Linked DNA regions of Homo sapiens. The protein of the gene in region 2 interacts with the protein of the main gene of each other region in a biochemical or structural test. Each region holds a gene or a part of one and is shown on either strand. Other genes may lie near its edges.

Region 1 (7,000 bases), on a different chromosome or scaffold from region 2:
AAAAAATTAAATAGTTATCTGTCTGAATGGTTTTAAGAAATTATTACATAAATATAAAAACACCAGAATACTAGAGTATACATTACTTCTGCATTAAAAAAAAATCCATTGCAGAATCACTGAGAATTTCTCAATCCAGTTTACATGAGGCAAGTTTCTTTTCTATGATAGCTGTGTTTTTGAAAAGTTGCCTGTTTAGCCCATCATCTCCCCACCATCACCTCCCCATGGGAGATGCTTCATCATCATTTTGGATCCATGTCCTCTTGCGTACGTTTTTCTGCTTTCCCTACCCACTTGAGAAGCGGCTGATGCTCCTTAAACTGTGATGAAAATACATTGTGAAGACGGTTACCTGAAAGGGGCCTACAAGGGAACATCTTTGCCACACAAAGACAGTACAGCTTCGCTGTGTTGAGGTTTGGTTCTGGTAAAATGGGGACACGTTTATTTTGGGGGAACTCCCAACTCTAGCCAAGTCACACAGTAAGAAACAGGGTCCAGGGCTAAACGGGTGCACTCTCTTGCTGCTGGTATCCCCCTTGGTGAACAGTCCTACAAGCAGCCTGCAGATTCTTCTCCCTACATCTCCTGTAAGGACGAAGGAGTGGTGTAACCTGAGCTCCGGCCCTGTGGAGACCCTCATGAGGCCTGAGGCTAAGAATGAAACAGATCTTTGCTTCTTCCCCAGATTACTTACATACGTGCATGCCATGCACACACTACTTCAAACCTTTCTGTAGTCTTGAGTAAAAGCATTTAGCCTGGAATATGTCCAAACTCTAGGAAGCCAAGGGGAGATGGAGAAAAATAAACAAACTAAGCACATGATATGTGCTATAGCTCACTTCAGTATATTAACGATGGTTTAAAAAAATAATCACCATGGTCAATAAAAAAAAAAAAATACAACACAGACAACATAAGGACAATGGAGACGTCTGCCAGCAGCCTTGCCCTCATGTGTGCTCTTCCTAAGAGTCAAAGTCCCTGCTCCTGACTCCTCTAGGCTTGTCTCAAAATGTCAGGTCTACAGCCTGCCAGGAAGGTGGCCAACTGAGATGATGTTCCAGCACAGGCCTGTAATCCAAACCGGCTGGGGTAGCTACCTACGTATGTGCTGGAAGCATCTAAGTTACTAAATTGGGAAGAAGCGAGGTGGGGAGGGGAGAGAGGAAAGGGAATAAAAGTTGGCTCCTTGGAAGGTGCTGAAGACAAGGATCTGTGTCCCAGTGCTAGCTGCACTTGGGTCAGTCTCAGCACAAGCTGCAAGGTGAAGATGTCATGGCGGGGAGCCCAGGGCAGGGGCAACACACGCGGTCGTGTTGACTAGGTGAACGCCACTTAAAACTGCTATCCAGTCACCAGCACTCCTCTAGAACTGCCCTGGTTTCCTCTTGCCCTTTTCAACTGTCCTTTAAAAAAGTGTTTTAATATACAAATGCCATTCATACAACAGGATTTTAAAACTAAGAAAACTAGCTTGTGGCTTCAAGGAAGGACACTAATGTTACATACGCCCAAAGCACCTATGTAGCACTCTAAGGTGGGAATGGCACCATTTCCTAACCTCTTAGGTATGATCAAATTTATTTTCAGTGATGCCACAGGTGGGTTTGCCTACAATCCCACACATCCTCCTCTGGTGGTCTAGTCAATAAAGAAAAAGGGCCAAGGAAGTATCCTTTGGAAAAACACAAAACTCAAACTTCATGCTCCTAGAAGTAGCCTTCAGGTCTGAGCAATGAGGGTTCTAAGACACCATCCAAATGCAGCCAAACGTGTCATTTCATCACATTCAAAGTTCATAACCTGCCAAAGTATAGGCTTTTTTTTTCCCCCTTCACCTGGAGTAAGACACGACTTCCATAGATCACTGGATCACCAGAATCAGGCTGTGCCTGAAGCTAGTTCCCAAGCACCCAGAGGGCTGTGTGCCACAGGAAGCCCTCATAGGATCGTGCAGCAGGTGGATCATGCAGGCCCTCGGAAACTGCTGCCCATGGCTTTTAGGAGAGGAACCATGACTGCTCTAGCAGAAGCCAAAATGGAATATTTGGTTCCTGGGTCTCAGAGCTGGCTGGGAACATGAACACATGTACAGGAGGTTCAGGGGGCTTCCTGTGTAAGAAACAGGCCATAGATCATTTCACACCAGGCACATACTTCAGACTCACAGCATTTGGCCCTCTCAGAGGAAGTGAGGGGTTTTGTATTGTCTCTGGGTTCTGAGTCAACCCTCCTTCGAGAAGACTCACACAAGTCTGTCAAGGTGCTCCTTCCGTCTCTTCCTGTGTCCTCAGGAGGCTTGGGGAGCAGCTGTCCTACCTGGAAACCTCATGGCTAGAACTTCAGAGGCACAGGACCCTGCAGATGAGGCATCAGGAAGCCTCTCCATCTCCCTCTAACATCAGAAATCTCATCACATTTGAGCTGTATGACTTGCCAAAAGTATATACACTTCCTTCCCTTCACCTGGAATAAAGCAGGACTTCCATAGGAAATCCCTTGATTTTTCCTGCTATAAATTCATGCAAAAACGTGGGATAGGTCATTTTATACAAAAACAGCAGCAAAGAATAAAGTACCAATTGAAGGTGGCAGTTCTGTCTACTGTGTTCTGCAAAAGGCTGGGAAAAGAAGAGGACTCTTTTTTCTTTTTTCCAGTTGAAATAATTTAGACTAGTTTTCTCCCTAATTGCTGCTGGGAGCAGTACTTGTTACACAATACAACTGCTATAGTTGTCACCGGTGATCCTCTACCGGGAGCTAGATCATCTTATATCCCAGGGGGAAGATGACAGACCTCTTTGTACCAAGCCTGCAATTTTCAAAGGTGTAAAAATATTTTAATAGCCCTTTTCATTTGCCTATGTTGGCCTGAGATGTTTCCCTTCTGGTGAATTTGCTTCTGTAAATTTCAGCTTGCAGAAGTGCTGGCAGGTATCTCTTCAACAAAACCTGGAAAAGCTTCACCTCAGGAGAGAGAAGGGAGAGAAGCAGTTGCTGGGTCTCACTCAGGTTTCCCAGTCAATGTGCCAGCCCAGGATTTTTAAAGAAAATATATAAACCAAACATTTAAAAGAGCATATGATAAAGTTGATTTAATGAATGCAACTGACTACATAAACCAATATAGCCGTATGCATCAGAATCTGGAGCAAGCTCTTACAGATGACTGGAGACGCACCCAGTGTGGTGCTGCCTGAGACCAAATGCCATCCCACGACAAGGGCCTCCTGCTTCATGAGAACACTTACCGTCATTCGAATCTCTTTGAGATTAATGTGATAATAGACACTATACATTGCATATGCACTGGGCCTCAGCAGATCCTTCCAACTTTTCAAAGTGAAAAAGGACAAACGTAAGTGAGTTTTTAAAGAGGTGGCGCTCATCGATTTTTCCCGCTGTCCTGTGTGCAGGTTCTGCTGAACACGCACCTCCCAATCAGTATGTTCTGAGAGGGGAGGGAGACAGACAAAACTCCCTCCCTCCCCATCCCAAGTCTATCCAGCTCACAAGGGGCAAGGTCTGCTGGAGTGGTGGGGCGGGGCGGGGCGGGGCTGGGCTGGGAATGTTCACTGGAAGAGGCACTGTCACAAGCGTCAGAGAGCTGGGCATGAGGTCTGCATGGCCCTGCGGGCTCTTCCTACCTAGAACGCCCTTCCAAGGTGAACTCCACACTGCAGTCCTAGACAGAGGGGTGTTTCTGGTTGGACTGTGACATCCCAGAAAGCTGTCACTCAAAAAAAGAGTCTGGGGGGAGGGGGCCGGTGGTGTAATACTACCTGTTCTGCTCACTTAAGCCACCAGAGCAGACGCCATTTCTTGCCCTTCAAAGTGGGGCCAAAGGGTAAATGTGTTTGGCAGACACAGCTGTTCATAACATCCACCTCTGGGTTTGCTCGTGTGTTTCAGAAAACAGGTGGGTGCACCCCTTCAGTTGAGGGAGAAAGATTTCTTCTTCCTTGACAACAATGGGTTGAGTAGAGTTCCAATTTTCTCCACCTCCTGCATGGCCATTTTCCCCAAGCCTGCCCTCCCCTACCATACTTGATGTCTCTAAGACACACTGGAACAGCGGATGCTTGGGGAGCCCATCTGGGTGAGGACCTTGTCAAGCCACTGCAAAGGCCCATTCAGGTGCAGCTCAATCCAGCAGGGGGTACTGGTCACAGTCTGTCTCCTGTAAGAAATAGGGAAAGGGGTGGGGTGGGGGACTTAAAAAATCTCCAGGGGGTTACACAAGTCAGAAAGCTTTTTCTGCTTTGGTGACAGTCATCTTCCCAAAGATGCTGTTAGACGCTGTCCTAGAAGCGGTACCAGTAACTTGCTGAAACTACCCGGCCAAACTCCTCTACCCAGGGAGGACTTTGAGTAAATTAAGTTCTCTTGAGGGGGAAGGAAGTCGACTTTAAAGAGTTAAACATGTAAAGTCAATGGCAAAGAGTTAAATATGTAAAGTCAATTGCAGGGTACCCCAGAGGCCCACCAGTTACTGTAACAGGCCCCCTAATAGAGGAGACCTCCATCCTGAGCAAAGGGCTTCCTGGCTCCCATCTGTACCAAACGGGCACGTGCCGCTCCCCTATCTCGAAATCTGGGCCCAGCCCCAGCAGGCGACGATGACGTGTGTCTGTCTGATTGAGGGGTGTTTTTTACAAAGCGCCAACAGTGTCCGCATGCCTTCGGTTCCCAATGTGCTGATATAATTCTCATCTACGGCCTTATTTTGGAAAATCTTACAAGCAGAACGAGCCATGGAACAATTACTGGAAAAAAACAAGGCACACCACACGTTTCTTTTCCCCAAAGCACTTTGTCTAAATTCAGGCTGGTTGATGACGCAGCTTGCAGGCAGGCTCCCAAAGGCCTCCACTGAGCAAAGGCTATCTGCTGAGGCTGGAGTCGCTGGTGCCAGCTGGAGGTGAGAGGTGTGGGCCCTGGGCCCTGCTTTCAGCCACCTCACAGAGAGAAGAGCTGAAACCTTACTCTCCTTGGCCCAAGAGGCAGGAGGACGACAAGGCTGTTCTGGGAAGGGGCCGCGCCCGCCCGTCAGGCTGCTGTGCAGTGCTGCCAGGCAGCGGTGACGCGGTGGGCCACAGAGGACTGGGTGTGCTGGCAGGACATCCCGCGTGGTGATAGTGTCCCCAGGGAAAGGCTCTGCCACCAAAGAGCCTCTTCCTAGCACTTGGAGCGGGAGAGCTGCAATGCCACACCAGGAACAGTGTTGCTGTCTTGAAGGCACCACCCTCCTTGCTTGGCCTCTACTTTGCTTGTGTAGCAGGGAGGTTGAGAAATGGGCCTGCAGACAGACCCTGGGGTGTCTGCACGAGCGAGGGTACCTGAGTGTGGCCCTCCAGACTACAGTCTGGTATAAGAAGAGCAAATGGACATCCCCTTACTCTTTTCCACTGCAGTCCATCTTTAAATATTTCCCTTCTTCACTAAAAAAAGATTAATTTTCTAACCTTTCACTCCTGTTCCCTAAATGAGCTAAGCCAGGGCTAAAAGATTGCTTAAAACATTTCTCTGGCTAGACCTTTGGGCCTGGGCTGATCTCTTCAGGCCATAACATAGTTGTAAGTTCTTTTGAGGTCTGACCACTTTGATTGCTCCACTGGTCACTCCTGGATTTCAGAGACACCCAAGAAACCAAGGGGCTGTGTTCCCTGACACCCTGGGGCAGACACAGAAGAACAGCAGCTAAAATACGGTAAGTGGAAGAGGAGGATTTTACAGGATGAAATCCTCTAATGAGAATCTGACTTTCCATAAGTCATGCTCATCTGGATTTCATTACAAACGGTGGCCCAAGGCCAATATTGAAATGGGTTTGGCCTGAGTGCAGCATGACTGCAAAACAAAATGGATTCCAAACATCTGGAAAAATGAAGAGAAAGGGAGAGTAGCTTGCAAGGCGCTGGCTCTAGCTGACATGTGGGCACCTCTGCATCTGCCGCAGGAGCTGGCGGCTGGCAGGGGGGAGTGTGGAGCAGAAGGCGGGGGCACACAGCCCTGCCTCTCCGCAAACTTTGGTCCGTGAGTGGAAAGAAAAGGGACTGGATTCTCTAAACCCAAAGCAGGATGGCCTGAGAGATTCAACCAAGCAGACCAGGTAGACCTGACTATATCAGGGCCATGTTTAAACCAGTATCTAGGGCCGGGCATGGTGGTTCACGCCTGTAATCCCAGCACTTTGGGAGGCTGAGGCAGGTGGGTCACCTGAGCTCAGGAGTTCGAGACCACCCTGGGCAACATGGTGAAACCCCCTCTCTACTAAAATACAAAAAATTAGCCAGGCGTGGTAGCACGCACCTGTAGTCCCAGCTACTTGGGAGGCTGAGGCACGTCCTGGAGGCAGAGATTGCAGTAAGCCAAGATGGTGCCACTCACTTCAGCTTGGATGACAGAGTGAGACTCCATCTCAAAAAAAAAAAAAAAAAAAAAGAAAAAGAAAAAGAAACCAGTATGTAGGACTCTAAAAAAGTCATTTCTCAGCGAGAAAATTTTGTTCCTTTATAACTACCCAAATCTCCTCCTCCCTTCCCGGACTCTCAGTTTTAATATCCTGGGCTCCTCAGCATCACCAGGGTCCCTGAGTCAGAAATGGAGCAACAGAGGAGGAGAGGAACAATGAGCTGAAGACCTAACTTCCTGAAGAGGGTCATCCTAAAGCCATCTGCCTAAAATGAGACTAAGGAAGAAGCCAAGAGGGCAGAGTTCTAGACACAGCTCTTCTACCAGTGTGACTGCAGGCAAGTCACTCTCCCTCCCTGGGCCTTAGTTCTCTCATCTGTACGGATGATGCTGGCATCCCCACCCAGGGCTGGGATGAGGATAAGATGGAGCGTGTGTTTACAGTGCCTACAGCTGTTCGGTGCCAGCAAACATCGTTCTGCAATTCCTCATCATCTGCTGTTGGCCCGGCCCCTCCTGCCTGCCAGGCCTTGGCCTCTCTCTGATCTTTGGTCTTTCTGCTCTTGACGCTAGGGCT
Region 2 (6,897 bases):
CCAGAACAGTGAGTTATTGCAATGAATGAAAATTGTTTCCATTTTGGCTAATTGAGCCGGTGGCCGAAAGCTGGAGCCCTGAGACTAAATAAAGAGGACTGTTTCATTTCAACATGAAGAAACCCCTGCCTAGCTCTGGTCACCCAGCGAGAGTTTAATTTCTTAACAGCCAACCTGAAACCCAGCATTGGGTAAACAGTATTAATAATTGCATTACAATGATTAAATTAATCTTGCTGGTAGCCAGGAGAATATAGGTTGTGATTGAATAGCATGATGTAAAGTTCACTGCACAAAGACAATAGGCCTCGAAATACCTCCATAAAGAATTCAAACTTTCTTCCAAAGATACCGTGGGGCCGGTTCAATTAAAATGAGAGGAAAGGAAAACTTCCTGTTGCATGTAATGTATTGAAAATCGGTTATTTGCCATTTCTAACATTAATTTAAAAAATATAGTTGGGGAAGGGATATACTTGTCTGTGTCTTTCTCATCAATGTCCCATTTTCCTTCTAACTTCTATCTCAATCTCTTCACTTCTGCTAAACAAACAAAAACACGAAACAAAAAGTGACAGCAATAAAACAAGCAAACCCAGACAGTCTGTAAACCCATCGACTTTCCAACGAGGCACTGCTTCCAGGATGCTCGCTTCCGTGGGAGAAAACACAAGGAAACGTTGGAATGCATGCTACTGTCCCCCAAGAAAACGAATTTCAGGAGGAGAGGGAAAGGCGAGAGGTGGGGTGGGGGCGGGTAGCTAGGGCAGCTCCGCCAACTTGTTGGAGGCCTCTTTTCTCTTGGGCCAGCGACAGCTCAGACATCCCGTCAGAGGGTGTCGGGAACTCTAGGGGCTGCTGAACAGTCACCTGCTCTGGTCTCACGGCTGGGACTGGGACAGGTGGAAGTGACAGGGTCCAGGCACTTGAGAATGGGAACCGGCCGGGGCGGACGCGCAGAGGTCGCGGCGCTATCAGCCGCGAGCGCGACCGGTTGCTGCTGGGTGTTTGCTCCATCAGGTTAAACACACTTGAACTAGCAACTTAGCTCTTTATTAGCGCACACTTAGGGCAGAAAGCTAATGATAAAGAAAGAAAAAGAAAAGGAGAGAAAAGGAAAAGAAGCCCAGCTTTTAGGTTTGAAAATAAAAAACGAATGATATTGAGAATACTTTTATTTATTTAAAAGACGATGTCTTGTCTTTTCACAATGGCTTGGTCTGGGGACAGAGAAGAGTTTGCGTTTATTATTTGTTAGAAGGGGTTGGATTTTCTCGTGGCCCGAAACTGTTAGAAAGACCAGGGAGAAAGCTGGAGCGCTGAAGCGACAGCGGAGACTTCAAACCAGAAGGGGAGGGGTACTCCAGCCGCGCCTCATTCCGCCTCCCACTCCGCCAACCCCCCTTCTAGAAAAGTTTAAAAGACGGGGACCTTTAAATTTGGAGGTTCGGAGACTCCGATTCACTTCAGTCTTCCACCTCCCACCCAGTTCCCCTCACAGAACCCACCCCCTACCTCCCCAACCCTCCACGTGGTTTATAATTTCTCAGCAGCAACAGCAAGCTCAGCTTCACATGTGGGTCTTGCATTTAATCTCAGAGTTTGGTACCTTGGTCCCCTCCTTTCCTAGGAACATTTCTTGCACCCCTCTTAACCTCCCGTCTCCAAGGGAACCTAGACATAGACAGACCCCCTGGGGATGAGGTGAAAGGGATTAGCCGGAGGAGTGGAGGGGAGGATGGCGGTTCTTTTCTTTTTTCTTTTCTTCTCTTTCTTTTTTTTTTTTAAGCTACCTTGGCGGTTGGGCACCAAGGCAAGGTGCTCAGCCACCCCTGGGGTGCCTGGCAGGGAAGGTGAGGATTGGAGGGACAAGACCTAGATTTTGACAGCTGGGATCTTCAGGTGCTGCTGGTCTGTCCCCTGGCCTAGGGGATGGTCCCTAGAGAGTCTCTTACACCGATCAGAAGCAGCCTTATGAACTTCTTGCCAGTCAGCCTAGTGTTTGTCTCTCCCTAGAGATTTTGTCCCCCCTTCCAAAGCCTCTCAAGACCCATTTCTCCGTTTCCTCGGAGGACATTTGCTGGTCAGAGGGTAGGCACCTCTCCATCTAAACTGAGGGAAGCTGGTGGAGTCACATTTTGGGGGAAGTTTCAGAGTCAAAGACCTGTGTGAACCTAACAGAATGTTGGAATGGCTGGTGCTTTTGCACACACCAAATGTGTTAGCACACTCACCTTTATGCACAGGACAGCGGGAATTCTAGGTCTGGAAAAAAACCCAGGTGCCTCTTTAATTCAGAGTGGATAATAGAGTTCTCTTGTGCCCACGCGTGTGGGCACTAGAGCCTTCTCTTTTGGAAGTTGTTTTACTCCTGTTGTGAGTAATTCCCTCCTTTACCTTCCTACTTCCCTTCCTCACATTTCAACCTTATACATCTGTCTCCCTTGAGACCTGTAGCTTGGTTCTCCAGGGACCTCTATCTTACAGCCAAATGCCCCCAGAATTACACAGCTCTGGATAAAGGAAAATGGTAGGCATCCTTAACAAGGACAAATTCTTTGAACTTTGATTCTCTTGAATAAAGAGATTTGCAGGCCATTGATACCCTTTGGGGTTGAACCTTGTTATTTGCTCTCTCATGTCTGCAGTCCTAGATTTGATAATAAATACCAACAGGTACGACTGGGCATTCTCAATGATTCCCCTTTCCCTCCACAGCCTTTGCCAAACTCATGCCCAGGACCTGCTTTTCTTTTCCTTTAACTTGAACATCAAGGATGTATTGTTGCAGCACGGAGACTGAAAAGATTGTAATTTTCTTTTATGGTGTCTGGCAGGATTTGCAACAGATATTAATGGGGACATAAATAGCACATGGAAGGTATTGAACAAAACTGTTTAATGCAAGAAGGTTGTACCAAAAGAAAATCTATACCTAGTTGGGATTGATTCATACCTTGTACACAGCTAGCCCCTTTAGGAATTCCCATTTCTGAGTGGCACTTCATTGGTAAATCCTGTAATTAAAGGAAATTTCAACAATGTATTTTTTTAAGAGTGTGTGATTTTCCTCCCTACTCCTCTTTCTTTTGACCCCGAGGTTGTAGGTTTAAGCGAGTGAGTGAAAATGGCAGGCAAGCAGAGCTGCATCGGGAGGCGACCGGGGCAGCAGTGGGGGAGGCCGGAAGGTGACAGCCGACCTCTGAGAAAGCAGGAGGTCTTTGGATGTCAAATGCCAGCGCCGGCCCGGACCCGGGAATCAAGGGTGATCATTACTACTTGGTAGGGAAAGAATACTGAAATGTCCCAAGGATGGCAGCAAGCATTGGTATTACAGCTAAAATCGAGGAAAAAACCAGTTATTTATTCTGCTTACAACCCTGAAAGCGGAAGCTGCAATAGCTTCAGTAGCAGTAGCAGCGGCAGCAGTAGATTTCTCAAGTTCAGGATGATTCTCACTTTCTCCTGGATTATTAGCCGAGGGTCCAGCCCTTCTAGTTCTTTAACAGGAGAAGGGTTTTTAAAAAATGTTTTTAAAGTTTTTTTCCCCCCTGGCTTCTTGCTTCCCTCGTAGATGGTATAGAAAAATGTCTGCAATTTATGGTGGGAAAAACAATAACAATAATCATGATACAAGCTTGTTGGCGATTCTAACATGGAATCAATCCTCTGCCCAAGCCTTTTCAATTCCCCCCTCCCCTTTTTTTGGGCGAGGTGTCTGCTCCCCTCTGGCTCCCTGCGTTCGCTCCCCGCCCCCCGCCGCCCTCCCCGCGGCTCCCTTTCTCCGCCTCCTCGGCGATTGCCATCTGACAAGATCTCCAAATCAAAGTGATAAATCGCTCCAAACTTTTTTTGGCGGCGCTGAGATGTTGGAGGGGCGTCTAGCGCGCATGTGCGAAGGTGTCCAAACTGACAATGCTGGAGAGATAGCGAGTGTGGATTGAGAGAAAGGGAGAGAGGGAGGGAGAGAGAGTGAAAGAAGAAAATACAGAGAGTGAGTGTGTGGAAGAGAGAGAGAAACAGGAGAGAAACAGGAGGGAGGGAGAGAGAGAGAGAGAGAGAGAGAGAGAGAGAGAGAGAGAGAGAGAGAGAGAGAGACAGGAGAGAGAGGGAGGGAGCGAGAGGGAGAGCAAAAGAAGGAAAGGATCCAAGAAAAAAAAGCCCCAACCACACACCAGCGGCTGCAGGACTGGGCACAGCATGAGATCCAAAGGCAGGGCAAGGAAACTGGCCACAAGTAGGTGCAATATCCCTTTTCTATTGGCTTTTCCCCCTCCTCTGCCATCTTGCATATCTGTCTCTAGCGCTCCGGGAGGGAGCGCGGGCTGCCTCTTGCGCCGGGGCCCCGGGTGGAGGGCAGGCGGAGCGCAGCCCCAGCAACCTGCCGGTTCCAGTCTCTGCTCCCGGTCGCCCGCGCTCTCGCTCCCGGGTTGGGCGCCGGAGGAGCCTGGGCAGCCCTCAGTCCCGCGCACCGACCAGCTGTGGCAACCCCGGGGTGGGGGTGGGGGTGGGGGCAGCAAAGACTAGGGGTGGGAGGGAGGAGAGAGCGCGAGAGTGAGCGCGAAGGGGTGGGGTGGGGGGGAAGAGAAGAGGAGAAAGTCTCCCCCTCCCCTCCCCTTCCCCCCAGGCGGGGGAGAGTTGCCTCTGGCCAACCAGCTAGTCCCGGGTGTGGGAGGAGGGGGGCGCGGGGGATGGGGGGCCGGCAGGAGAAGGGAGCCTTTTCGAGCCTCGGTTTGTTTCTGGGGTTTGGGTAGGGTAGGCGGCTCAGAGGGAGCCACAGTGGCGGCGGCGGCGGGCGGCTGTGGTGGACTTGGGAAAAGTTGCGAGGCGGCCGCTGGAAGTTGCGCGGGCGGGCGGGTGGACTGCGCCGAGCCGCGGCTGCGGTAGTGGGCGCTGTGCGCTCGGCCATGCTCTCCGGCGCGGCGCTGCGCGGCGGGAGGACTGCGGCGGGGAGTAGGGGACACCAAGGTGGGGGCTGTGATCGCGGGGTGGGGGCGGGGGCACGGGCAGAGCAGAGCTACCGGCTCCGCACAGCCACGCGCAGGTGGGGAGGAAAGAGGCCCAGCGAGCGCTCGGACGTGGGGAGAGAAGAGGCCCAGCGAGCGCTCGGAGAGCCGGGAGTGGAGGGCACACAGCCAGCGGCGGCAGCCTAGGAGCAGGAGGCAGAGAGGGCGCGCTGCGACCCGCGCACCTCGGGCTTGCTGGGCGCCGAGCAAACCCCAGGGGGCGGGCTGCCAGAGCGTTGGGCCGCGGAGAGGGCGCAGCGCAGCCTCCGGCGCTTCGTCTGGGTGCAGCCTGGGTCCAGGGTCAATAACCCTCCCCGGCGCCCCCTGCCTGCCCGGCGCGGAGCGGCCTTGGTCTGGCGGGATGTGGGCTAAGGGGTTTGGGGAGGGGGCGGTGGGAGTCCCATCCCCCACTCTTACAGCAAAAGTGTTGGATGACTCGCCTGGCTTTGCCGGCGGGGCCCACACTTTCCCACACGGTGTGATGCTCCGCCAGGACTGTAGACGACAGGACTGCGTTTGTCCAAATGCTTCTACTTCGAGTTGAAGGGGACTCAGGGACACTGAGCCCCGGAGCGGCTGGGAGCGCTCTTCCTTGAGGTGTCAATAGGCGGGGCTGGAGCTGCCTCGGGAGTGGACAGGCCGCGGTTCTCTCTCCCACACTCGCACTCGCCGAAAACAAAACTCTCTAATTGTGTTGTTTACGGAACGCAGAAATGAGAGATCGGAGATGGGTGGGATGCTTCTCCCCAGTGAAATCCCAGTCTCCCCCCGCGCGACCCTCGCACATTAGAACCAAATACGGTAGGTATCGTATCCACGCCTCCTTGCTCACTGCGTCCCTGCAGCAGCCCGGGAAGTCGGCGGCACCTCAGCAGGCTCGGCTTCGCGGGCATTGGAGTCGGCGGTGTAGCCCCGCGAGATGCTGTCATCCCAGGCGCCTTTCCAGTGCTTTGTGCAGTCCTCACCCAAGCACTCGTACACTCCCCGATACATTTCCTTTCCCCTGGGTCTGAGAAATCAACCTAAATATAGGGCTCTTTGGGTCATCAGTCCATCTGTTTCTCTTTTGGGTGTTGTTCTTTACACTCGCTGCTACAGTGTCAAAGGGCGCCGGTGGAACTGTTTTCCCTGTTTGCTTTTAAATGAGGCCGATGTCTTTATTTTCATCTGAAGGGAAATAAATGTACATATACTTGAGGTTTGCGGGCTTCGATTTGGACTAAAGGTTGGGAGAGAGAGAGAGTGTGTGTGTGGGGGGGGGAGTTGGCGGGAGTGGGATGGTGGGTGGGGGTGGGTAGCCCTTTTCAACCATGCCTAAGTTGTGAAGTGAAAGCTTAAGGCTTCGCGCCGCAACTCACTGCCCGATAACTTCTGAAGTGAAAGCAGAACACAAAACCCTTCGAATTTTCTTGAGCAACTTTTTCAACTATTTTAATTGCCAAGCAAGACATACGATGCCGTCTTAAAATATTCCCGCACGCACAGTCCACTCAGCATCCAGAAACTGAGCCTCGTTTCCGATCTGATGATACTTGTCATTCAACTGGTGGGAGACCCATTTATTTTGTCCCCAGGGTCTCTAAGGATGCCGCTGCCGCTTTCTGATAGCTAGATCTCAACTCTTACAAACTTTTACTGAGCCTCAGATTCCCGCTTGCACTACTCCAGCTGTTGCTGCCGCAGCTGCCTTTCCCAGACAGAAGCGCTGCGTTGCAATTCTTCAGTTACAATCTGGGTAATAAAGGAAATCATATTAAAACTACAGATTTTTGTATTTTAAAGCGCGATTTCCTTCCCCCGAGTAGCGCGTGGCGGAGATGGTTGGTGACCCCTGCGGTGCAATCATCCAACGAAAACTTCACTGCTCTGCACCAGTTTTTCTTTTTCTGGG
Region 3 (7,052 bases), on a different chromosome or scaffold from region 2:
AGGTGATCCGCCCACCTCGGCCTCCCAAAGTGCTGGGATTACAGGCGTGAGTCACCGCGCCTGGCCGATGCATTTATTTTCAACAAATACATTTATTCATTTATTCAACAAACAGCTTTTTCTGTGTGTCAGGCTCTGGACTAGGCAATAAAGTCTCTTAACAGCAAACAAGTACACCCCTGTTCCTTAATGGAGTTAGAAAAGTGGAAACTCATGTCCCTTGCCCTATTCTCCAGTGTTTAGAGTAAGACAGTTGTTAGTGTACAAATCAAGGGCACATGCATTACTGAGCCATTCCTAAAGTGAGCTTGCCTTGCTTCCTGTAACATGTAGCAGATAGCACTAGGGAAGATGTGAAGTGTTACTCAGTGTCACTGGGAACAATCTGTGTATTTTGGGGGGACCTTGGCACCAGTTTTGCACAGTCTATACAAACTGAAGATACGGCCAGTCTTTCAGAAACATGTTTATTGCTGAACAGATGTACACTTGTAGAGCTAAGCTTCATCTGACCTTAATTTGATCACTTATTGCCCTTTAATTACAGAAGCTGGTTAAGGAAAGAAAGCAGAGTTGAATAACTCAGTGAAAGGATCGGGAATAGTGTAAAAAGTTAGTTAAACCGAGACCCAGGATTGGACAGCAGTCTCATGTAGTGGAAAGGCCTTGGGTTTTGGAATCAGAGAGCCCTAGCCTAATATTTTGTTTCTCAGTTACAATACTGGGCAATTTACTACCAACCCCAGGCCCTTGGTTTTCTGACACAAAATGGAAGTACTAACCCCTTCCTCTTATTCAGTGATCACAATTCAAGTACCTAGAACATTGCCTGAGATATAAGGGTCCTCCCAAATGATTTCTTCCTCTCTTGTAGTTGTGGGTTTGTTACTTGGGCTCTTTCTAATCCAAATGATTTGCCTACACTGTTATTATGGACCTATTGTAAAATGTATTTGAGAAGCAGACAATGAACAACAAAGGCCTGGGATAGCCAAATTGTCCCAGTCCATAGCTTAAAGCTTAGGAGAGCCTTGGAGACCCTTAATAAGAATGTGTTGGCATTTATTTAAAGTGTTTCTAACAAGCAAAGTTATCTGGCTTCTAAACCTGCACTAGATTAGAAACAAGTAGATTATGGGTACTGTGGGAGGCTTAGAGGGGGTGTGGTGGGGGCTGGGGAGTAGGATGTTAGCCTAGTGTCTCTTGTCAGAAAAAACAGATAACAGCTCGGTGAGGATAATAGAGATAATCTACAAGACACAAAAATAGTCAAAGCCTGACTAGCATGTCTGGGGCCATTGAGTGCAGGACCAGACCTGAAAGCATAGTAATGAATGTTCATCAATTAGCCTAAATCATGTTTGGGAAAATCTTTTTAAGAGTGCAATAATCTACGTAATATACTTTAGATTGTCACTCAGGATGATTAAGAAATGTTCTTAAAGGGGTTGAAGATTGTGCTATAGCTTATGGCTTATTTCATGAAAGATCACAGTAGCTGTTATGACCAAGATGTTTTTCATTTGTTTTGCCATTCAGACAGCCATTCAGATTCCAAGCTGAAAGGGTAGCCAGCAGTAAAGAAAGGCTGTTTCAGTGTGGTAGCACCCTATGTCACCCCTTTCTTTGGTGTAAGTAATTTTTTTGTCAGTCTGCAGGAGTATCATATAAATTTTCACTTGTGCTTTGACAGTAGTGTATGCTTTTCACTGTGTTTTGAGATAGAGTATGCTCGAGATTTCTAGGATAAAGCAAGAGTGGATAGTTGGCCAGTCTCTCTGTTGAGGGTTTCTTGACTCTTGTCATGTGACTTCTGCCCAGTATTAGCACTGATAATTTTTTTGATCCCCTTTCTTGTAACCTTACCTCAGGGTTACTTCTTAAACCATCTACACCATCAGATAATTATTGGTGACCTTGTAATATGTAGCCTTGGCTGTTTTTAAGAATCAGGTTTTTTTTTAGCAGTAGTACAAAAGTACTAGCCTTTTTGGTTTAAAAATGCATAGTTAGAGGCTTATTGCTTGTCATTGATCAATTTTGATCATTTTTTCAGGTTGGTGTAATTGTGATGTATTCAGTTAGGACATAATTCAATGTTGATTCTAGATTTACATCTCAAAGATAGCTCGCAGCTTCAGTTCAGCAATTTCATGTAGGGAGAATATAATTTTTCCAAGCCAGGTGGATTTAGACACTGCCTTTAGTTTGGTCAGATAGCCAGAAATATTAGGGCAATTCTGTGTCTTCTGTGCTTGCCTCACATTGTACAGTGTGAGTGGTTCTCCTTGGCTCAGTGGGTTCCTCTTATTTGTAACTGAGGCACATTGATAGGACAGGTGCTTGATGTATCTTTAGGTTTGTAGTCTTAAGAAAATAGAAATTCTGACGTGATTAATTCTTATCAAAGTTTGTGAATTTACTGTGAAATTGTCACTAATTATCCTAGGTAGCCCTGTCATTTTTCAAAATCTGGTTTTACATTGGCCTCAAGGCTGTAGAGTAGTGGAAAGCGAGGATAGACTTTAGTTGCTTCTGTTTAGTACACGTGTCTACCTTAATGTAAAAATTTGCATTTCCTTGAATAATCTACAGTGTCATACCTTCCCTCATTTTGTGGGGAAGGGGGATGTAGTTTCACATTTAATGTATTCAGTAGGAATAATCTTGGGTGAACCACTGGTATTCCATCTGTTCATTAGTTTGAGTCTCTTAAGTCAAAAAAGACTCTTGATCTGAGGAAGTAGCATAGTGAATCTGTGATCTTATAGTTTGCCTATGTTTAAAAGTAAACTACATTTTCATATGCTGCTTCAGCTACTTCCAGAAATTCTGTAGAGACATAATGGTTAAGGTCTTGTAAATATCAAGGAAACGTTCCATCCTCATCACGTCTTTCATTTCAGAATGTGAGGTGGTGAGGCCGGAGGCAGTGGCTCACGCCTGTAATCCCAGCACTTTGGGAGGCTGAGGCGGGCGGATCACTTTGAGGTCAGGAGTTTGAGACCAGCCTGGCCAACATGGTGAAACCTTGTCTCTACTAAAAATGCAAAAATTAGCTGGGTGTGGTGGCGGGTACCTGTAGTCCCAGCTGCTCAAGAGGCTGAGGTAGGAGACTTGCTTGAACCGGGGAGGCCGAGGTTGCAGTTAGCCGAGATCCCGCGACTGCTCTCCAGCCTGGGAGACAGAGCAAGACTCCGTCTCAAAAAAAAAAAAGAAAAAAAAGAAAATGTGGGGTGGCAAATCTTTTTTGCAGAGCCTCCTATATAAAATCCTCATAAATGATGCAGTGGAAGCTGGGCCCGTGAGCCTTCTGCCTTGACTTGAGTGAACTATTGAAACTCTTTTGTTGACTAGAGATACTTTATCTGTGGTAGTAAATGTAAATTTTCCTTATTGAGATCCACTTTTAAAATTCTTTTTTTTTTTTTTTTTGAGACGGAGTTTTGCTCCTGTTGCCCAGGCTGGAGTGCAGTGGTGCGATCTTGGCTCACTGCAACCTCCGCCTCCTAGGTTCAAGCAGTTCTCCTGCCTCAGCCTCCTGAGTAGCTAGGATTACAGGCATGCGCCACCATGTCCGGCTAATTTTGTATTTTTAATAGAAACGGGGTTTCACCATGTTGGTCAGGCTGGTCTCGAACTCCTGACCTCAGGTGATTCGCCCACCTTGGCCTCCCAAAGTGTTGGGATTACATGCGTGAGCCACTGCGCCCGGCCTAAAATTCTTAATAGACAGGTAGTTAGGTTGTAGTTCATGTTAGCTGATCAATTAAACTTTTTTTTAAAAAATGTTTTAGTTATCAGGAGGGTCCAGCTTTGGCCTGAGGTTGTGCATTGGCCATTTCTGCTCGAAACCAGTAGTAGTCAGACTTAAAACATGTGCACACCTGCACACACAGCAGCAACTAGAAAGCCTTTAGAGAGAAATATGCAGAATTTCGAAATGTAAAACAGATAAAAGGAGTAAAGCTGTTTTGTGGAAGGAAGAATAGGCAGTTGTTGAAGTCCTGCCTGATCAGTTTTCCTCTCATCCTCACCACCAGGAAGCCTTTGAAGCACAGCTGAAGAACAGTAGGTCTTGGAGAAATTTTTGCTGTAGACCTGCTCTATCTTAACAGGTAGCTGCCAGCCACATGTGGCTATTTAGCACTTGAAATGTGGCTGCTGTGACTGAGAAACTGAATGTTAAATTTTACTTAATCTAAATTTAGATAGCCATATGCAGCTGATGGCTACTGTATTAGACAGCACAGATACCCAAGGACATTTACATCATTGTATAAAGTTGTGTTGGGTGGCACTACTCTAGACTTTGCTTTAATTGAGCTTTTATGGCCTGAGGACCCCACTCACGTGAATTGACGTGGTATTAGTTGCTGCTTCAGAAGAGGGTCAGGATAGACTTTGGGAATTTGAAGAGCAATTAGAGTACTTGTACTTTATATTTGTGCTGATTTGAGTCTGGGCCTGTGTAGTGTTGTCATAGGTGCTTTTTTTTTTTTTTTAATAATCTGGGAATGATAAACCAATATGTAAGTTACGTGTTTACAAGTTGATTATAGAGTTGTGGATTCCACAAAACTCATTATAGGTGATAGGAATATAACTCTTAGTTAAAAAAAAAAAAATAAGTAGTCTCTTTACACAGCAGTCCCTATTTAATGTGGACTTTTGCTAAAATAATAATTTTCTTGAATTAAATTCAAGCTTGCATTAGGTTTGACAGTCCATAAAGTTGAACACATGAATGTTTTCTGTTTGCTTTTGTTTAAAAGACATGACCCATCATTCTCCATGGGGGCCGACCTAGGTTTCCAGTTGGCAGTGTCTTTCCTTACTAGCTTACGCTTTGGAGAGAACATAGTTGTAGTGAGAATTGAAAAATCTGTTTTTAAAAAATTGGGTTTTATGTATTTTAATTTTTTTGAGGTTTTCTATTATCCTGGTTACTAATGAATTATTTATTTGACTAAAACAGTTATACAATTCCAGGTCATTGATGCTGCTGTTTTTTTCTCTGCCTTGTAGTATGTTTGAACATAGATTGCTAAAAATCTCGGTCTCCACAGAGGATTGGTTCCGGGACTCTCCTGCAAGCACCAGAATATGAGAACGCTGAAGTCCCTTGTATAAAATGGTGTAGAATTTGTTTTATGCACATTTTATTGTTATTCTTTAAATCCTCTCTAGATTACTTAATATCTAATACAATGTAAATAGTTGTTATTCTATATTGTTTTAGAAATGATGAGAAAAAAGTCTGTACATGTTCAGTACAGTCACAGTTTTTTCCTGAATATTTTTTATCCATGGTTGGTTTAATCCATGTATTTGGAACCCACAGATAAGGAGGATTGACTGCACAGTGATTTTATATTATTTCTAGTGGGACCTTAGATGTTCTAGATGAGGCAGCACCATCATATTTAAAGTATTTTTGTTGAAATAATTAACTTTGGTTTTCTTTCTAAATAAAAATTCACATAGGTATTTGGGGAATATTTTGTATTTTCCTGCAGTTTGAAGATTTGAAATTTCTCTTCCCTCCATACCTTTTAAAAGTGCAATCTACTTTTGCTTTCTACATTTAATCACTATCTGTTCTTGACTTCAACTTTGCAAACATATTTTTTAACCATTCTTTTTCACATTTCCCTTCCTACTGGCCTTCCGGATGAACTGTCAAGTTTAGCAGTCTTTTCTCAGTGATCATACTTTCTTCAGTGTTTGCTGTTATTGTTTATACTGTCTTTATCTAAATTTCTTAAAATGACACAGACACAAGTTAGGCCCATTCTTCTTACTGTAAACAGATGAAAATGTTGGATAAAATATAAAAGTTTTCTCTTATGTATACAGTTGATCTTGAGAGAGAAAGTGCCCAGGTACTAGAAACTTAGAAAAATCAGTCAACTTTAAGGGAAGTGTGGCCTTGGGGGATTTACTAGAGATAAGATTCAGTAGTTGGGGCTGAGGTTATAATGCCATTCAATGAAAGGAGACAGAACTGTGGGAACTGTGTGCTTAAAAAAATTAAAAAATGAAAAGTGTTCTGGTATCATTGAAACATCTGGGGCTTCTTGGAGAAAGAAGCCTCAGACCTCTCTATGGAGGAACTGGAAAAACAGTAGGCTTTAGATGGACTTTAATATCACAGCAAGGCAAGGCAGGGTACATGAAAACATCTACAGCTGCATGTGGAATAGTGAATTTTTGTATACATAATCCATGACTGCAATCCAAAATTCAGGGATACCCAGTGAAGAGTCTCTTTACTGGTCTGTTCTTTGCCATACAGTTGCCTTTTCAAAGGCAAGTAGCTTTACTAGGTTTTTGTGTGGTGTTCCAGAGATTTTATGCATCTATGAACAATTTTGTGTGTATATTACCTTTTAGTACAAGTGGTCACATATGTCACTTAATAGTACATCTTATTTTGTGTCAGTATGTAATGAATGCCTTTCTTCTTTTTTGGAGTAGTGGGTTGTATAATATTCTTTTGTATGGGTGTCTGTAAATTTTTTTTTGAGACAGTGTCTCACTCTGTCACCCAGGCTGGAGTGCAGTGGTGTGATCACAGCTCACTGCAACCTTGACTGCCAGGGGTCAAGTTAATCTCCCACCTCAGCTACCTGAGTAGTTGGGACTGCAGGCGCATGCCTACCATATCCAGCTAATTTTTAAAATTTTTTGTAGAGGTGGGGTTTCGCCATGTTGCCTAGATTTGTCTTGAACTCCTGGGCTCAAGCGATTTGCCTGCCACGGCCCCTCAAAGTTTTGGGATTACAGGCGTAAGCCACTGTGCCTGGCCGGGTGTCTGAATATATCATCAGTCCTCTGTTGAATGTTTCCAGTCTTGTGGTATTAAAAACAATGCTACAACAAATAACTTCGTTTATATAGCATTTTGCTCCTTTGCAGGTATGTCTGTAAGATAGATTTCTAGGAGTAGTTCAAAGAATATCTACATTTGTAATTTATTTTAGAGAATGTACTTTATTCATTTTTTCGAATAACACATGCACATGGTATAAAAGTCAAGGAGAACAAAA
Region 4 (2,835 bases), on a different chromosome or scaffold from region 2:
GTCAATTTAATTGCATTGTTTTGAGACAGGGTTTGGCTCTTTTCTGGAGACAGACAGGCTGGAGTGCAGTGGTGAGATCTCAGCTCACTGCAACCTCCACCTCCCAGGCTCAAGCAATCTTCCCACCTCAGGCTCCTGAGTAGCTGGGACTACAGGTACAGGCACATGCCCCCACACCTGGCCAATTTTTGTATTTTTAGCAGAGACGTGGTTTCACCATGTTGCCCATGCTGGTCTCGAATTCCTGAGCTCAAGCGATCTGCCTGCCTCGGCCTCCCAAAGTGCTGGGATTAAAGATGTGAGCCACCACACCCAGCCTTAAGTGCATTTTAAAGTTTAAGTATAAAACAAACTTATTTTAGGTCAAGATGTTATATAGATGATGGTGTAAGTGATATGCTGTGGGGGCTGAAATTGTGAGGATTAGAGTCAAATGGCTGAGGTTTGAGGAACATGTTCCTGGGCAAACCCAGCTCCCAGCCTCTATCCCCTCAACCCCCACCCACACAAGCACCTCACATCTTGGTTTGTTCAGTCGACAGTTCATTTTATTGATGCCCACTCCAGGCTGCATAGGGTTGAGGGGTGTACAAGAGGAGAACCAGATTCAGTCCATGCCTGGAGGTTAGTCTGGGGGGCCGGCGGGATGGACACACAGACAGACACATAGATCTGGCATCTGATAGCAGGGCATACAGTCTCATGTAGGGGCACTCTGGGCACAGGTAGTCAGGAAGGACTTCCTAGAGAAGTCCTCACAGGGGGTGGGGGAGCAAGGAGCAAGGCAGCCATCAGAACCTTCGCCTTTTGTACATTTGTAGGCAGGTGACTTTTGAGACCAGTGGAACCAGGGTGAGCACAAAGGGCTGGGGTCTGGGAATGGCAGGCAGCAAGGGCTTCCCTCTCGCCTCGTCATCCCATAGTGGGGAAGCCATCTCCCCCACCCCCAATTCTTGGCCTGTACTTTGCCTTCTGCCACATGGGCCCTTTCCTGGCATCCACCTCCGTGGTTTTCAAGGCTTCCCTGAGACAATCCACGTGGACCAGGTGCTCTACCCAGTGCCTGGCACCTCATCACCACCCCATCAATGCACATTCTTGTCCTAAGTGCTATCTACGGACTATCTAGATCTTGGTTCCAGCTCTGAGTGGTGTCAGCGGTCATGACACCCCAGGTCAGGGCCCCTAGCAACCGCAGAGCTCCCAAGAGCCCTAGGTACCTTCACTGCACTGTGAAGGCAGAGCTTGGTCCCAGCCTACCTCCAGGGCTGGCCAGCTCTGCACTGCCTTCCTCTCACTGCTCAGTGGCCCATGGACACCCACTTCCCTTCCAGTGGCATGTGGGCATCCACTTCTCAGATATGCAGCCCTGAAGAAGAGACCCTACAGCTCTTAGGGCCAACACTACCCAGCACTGTAAGCACGAGCAGAAACCAGCCTCAGCCCGTAGCCCAGGGACCCCCTTTCTTTCACTAGTACAAAGTTTCTGTGGTTGGGGAACCAGCTTCATGTCGGGCTAGGCACTCTGGCCTCTGATGTCTGCCTGCTCTGGGGTTGCTTCCCCATACCTTTGGGGCAGCAGGGAGGAGGCCTGCAGCAGACCCCTCAATCTCCAGGCAGAAGCAGGTGCAAAAACAAATATATTCTGGGGCTGGGTTGGGACTCACCCCTTGGACCTCCTTAATAGGCCATGAATCCCAACGACAGAGAGTCTTGATGTTGAAAAACTATTTCTGAAGGTGGGTGGGGGTTTGTAAGTGCAACCCACAGATGGGGCTGGGACAGGGAAAGGGGACTCCTGGAGTCGGTCCTCACCACGGCCACAGCCCTGAACGTAGAGCAGGTAGGAGCAGGTGGGGGCAGGTGGAGGCAGGCGAGGCCCTGGCAGTCATTCTCGACAGGAGGGCAGCAGTGGGGGAGGTGCATGTAGCTTCAGGCCCCCTCAGTCAGTCTGGCCTCAGACTTCTAAGGGCTAGAAGAGGTATTTGCGGCAGGACTCAGTCCCACACTTGCATTCAATACGGACCCGCTTCTTAGGGGAGCCAGGGAGCCCAGCCAGGCCAAAGTTGGAGTCCATGCGGGTGCTCTCCATGTCCACGGGGTCCACTGTGGAGTCACAGCCAGGGAGGAGAGGAGGGAAGGAGGCAGGGAGGGAGGGGGAGAAGGAGGGAGGGAGGAAGGTAGGGAAGGAGGCAGGGGACTTGTTAGAAGGCCTGGATGAAGGGTCCCACTACCCTTTATACCATGAGACCAAGGATCTTTGGGGCTGGGAGCAACTCTGGGATTTGAGTTGGGAGATCTTAGGGTTGGTGGTTTGGGGCTAGGGCCAGGGCTCAGCACTGGAGGTTGTTCAGGCCAGGGGTTGAAGAATGCTGGGGGAGGCAGGGAGCCGTCAAGGAACCAGGAGGGTCGTTTTAGGTGTGTGGGGGGGGGCAGGGGCAGGAATAGAGGGCCACCTGGGCATCCAGAGGTACATCTGAACTCTCCTGCCAAAGACCTGCCCTTGAGGGTCTCAGAGGTGGCTAGCTTATCAAGGAGGGGACTGGCTGGAGGCCACAAGGGTGTCCAGAGGCTTGGGATGAAGAAGGCCAAAGGGAGCTAGGAGTGGGGAGGGGCTGGGGGATGAGGGAAACTCAGTCAAGACTGGAGTCAGGAGTTTCTTAACTCTCCAGGAATCTTGGGAGAAGTTGGTATGAATGCCTCAGGGTTAGGGTTCAGGGGCTGGGAATGAGGGGACTCGAGGGGTAGGCAGGGGTCTAGTAGTCCGAATGGGGGACTGGGAGTCAGGAAGAGCATCTTAAAGCTCCCGCTAAAGAATTTTCCTTGGTTCTCTGA

What was found.
Region 1: the proteins of MECOM (region 2) and SMAD3 form a complex in vitro, tested with the Homo sapiens proteins (2 studies listed by BioGRID).
Region 3: the proteins of MECOM (region 2) and SMAD2 form a complex in vitro, tested with the Homo sapiens proteins (one study listed by BioGRID).
Region 4: the proteins of MECOM (region 2) and SUV39H1 form a complex in vitro, tested with the Homo sapiens proteins (one study listed by BioGRID).

What each region holds. Positions count from the first base shown.
Region 1 is NC_000015.10:67,187,602-67,194,601, reverse strand, and holds part of SMAD3 (mothers against decapentaplegic homolog 3), read right to left. Parts: intron 4,190-7,000; coding exon 4,066-4,189; 3' UTR 1-4,065. UniProt on the Homo sapiens protein: Receptor-regulated SMAD (R-SMAD) that is an intracellular signal transducer and transcriptional modulator activated by TGF-beta (transforming growth factor) and activin type 1 receptor kinases.
Region 2 is NC_000003.12:169,660,676-169,667,572, reverse strand, and holds the start of MECOM (histone-lysine N-methyltransferase MECOM), read left to right. Parts: upstream 1-3,860; 5' UTR 3,861-4,200; coding exon 4,201-4,237; intron 4,238-6,410; exon of another isoform or gene 6,411-6,737; intron 6,738-6,897.
Region 3 is NC_000018.10:47,920,632-47,927,683, reverse strand, and holds part of SMAD2 (mothers against decapentaplegic homolog 2), read left to right. Parts: intron 1-7,052. UniProt on the Homo sapiens protein: Receptor-regulated SMAD (R-SMAD) that is an intracellular signal transducer and transcriptional modulator activated by TGF-beta (transforming growth factor) and activin type 1 receptor kinases.
Region 4 is NC_000023.11:48,706,708-48,709,542, reverse strand, and holds the end of SUV39H1 (histone-lysine N-methyltransferase SUV39H1), read right to left. Parts: intron 2,107-2,835; coding exon 1,973-2,106; 3' UTR 527-1,972; downstream 1-526. UniProt on the Homo sapiens protein: Histone methyltransferase that specifically trimethylates 'Lys-9' of histone H3 using monomethylated H3 'Lys-9' as substrate. Also weakly methylates histone H1 (in vitro).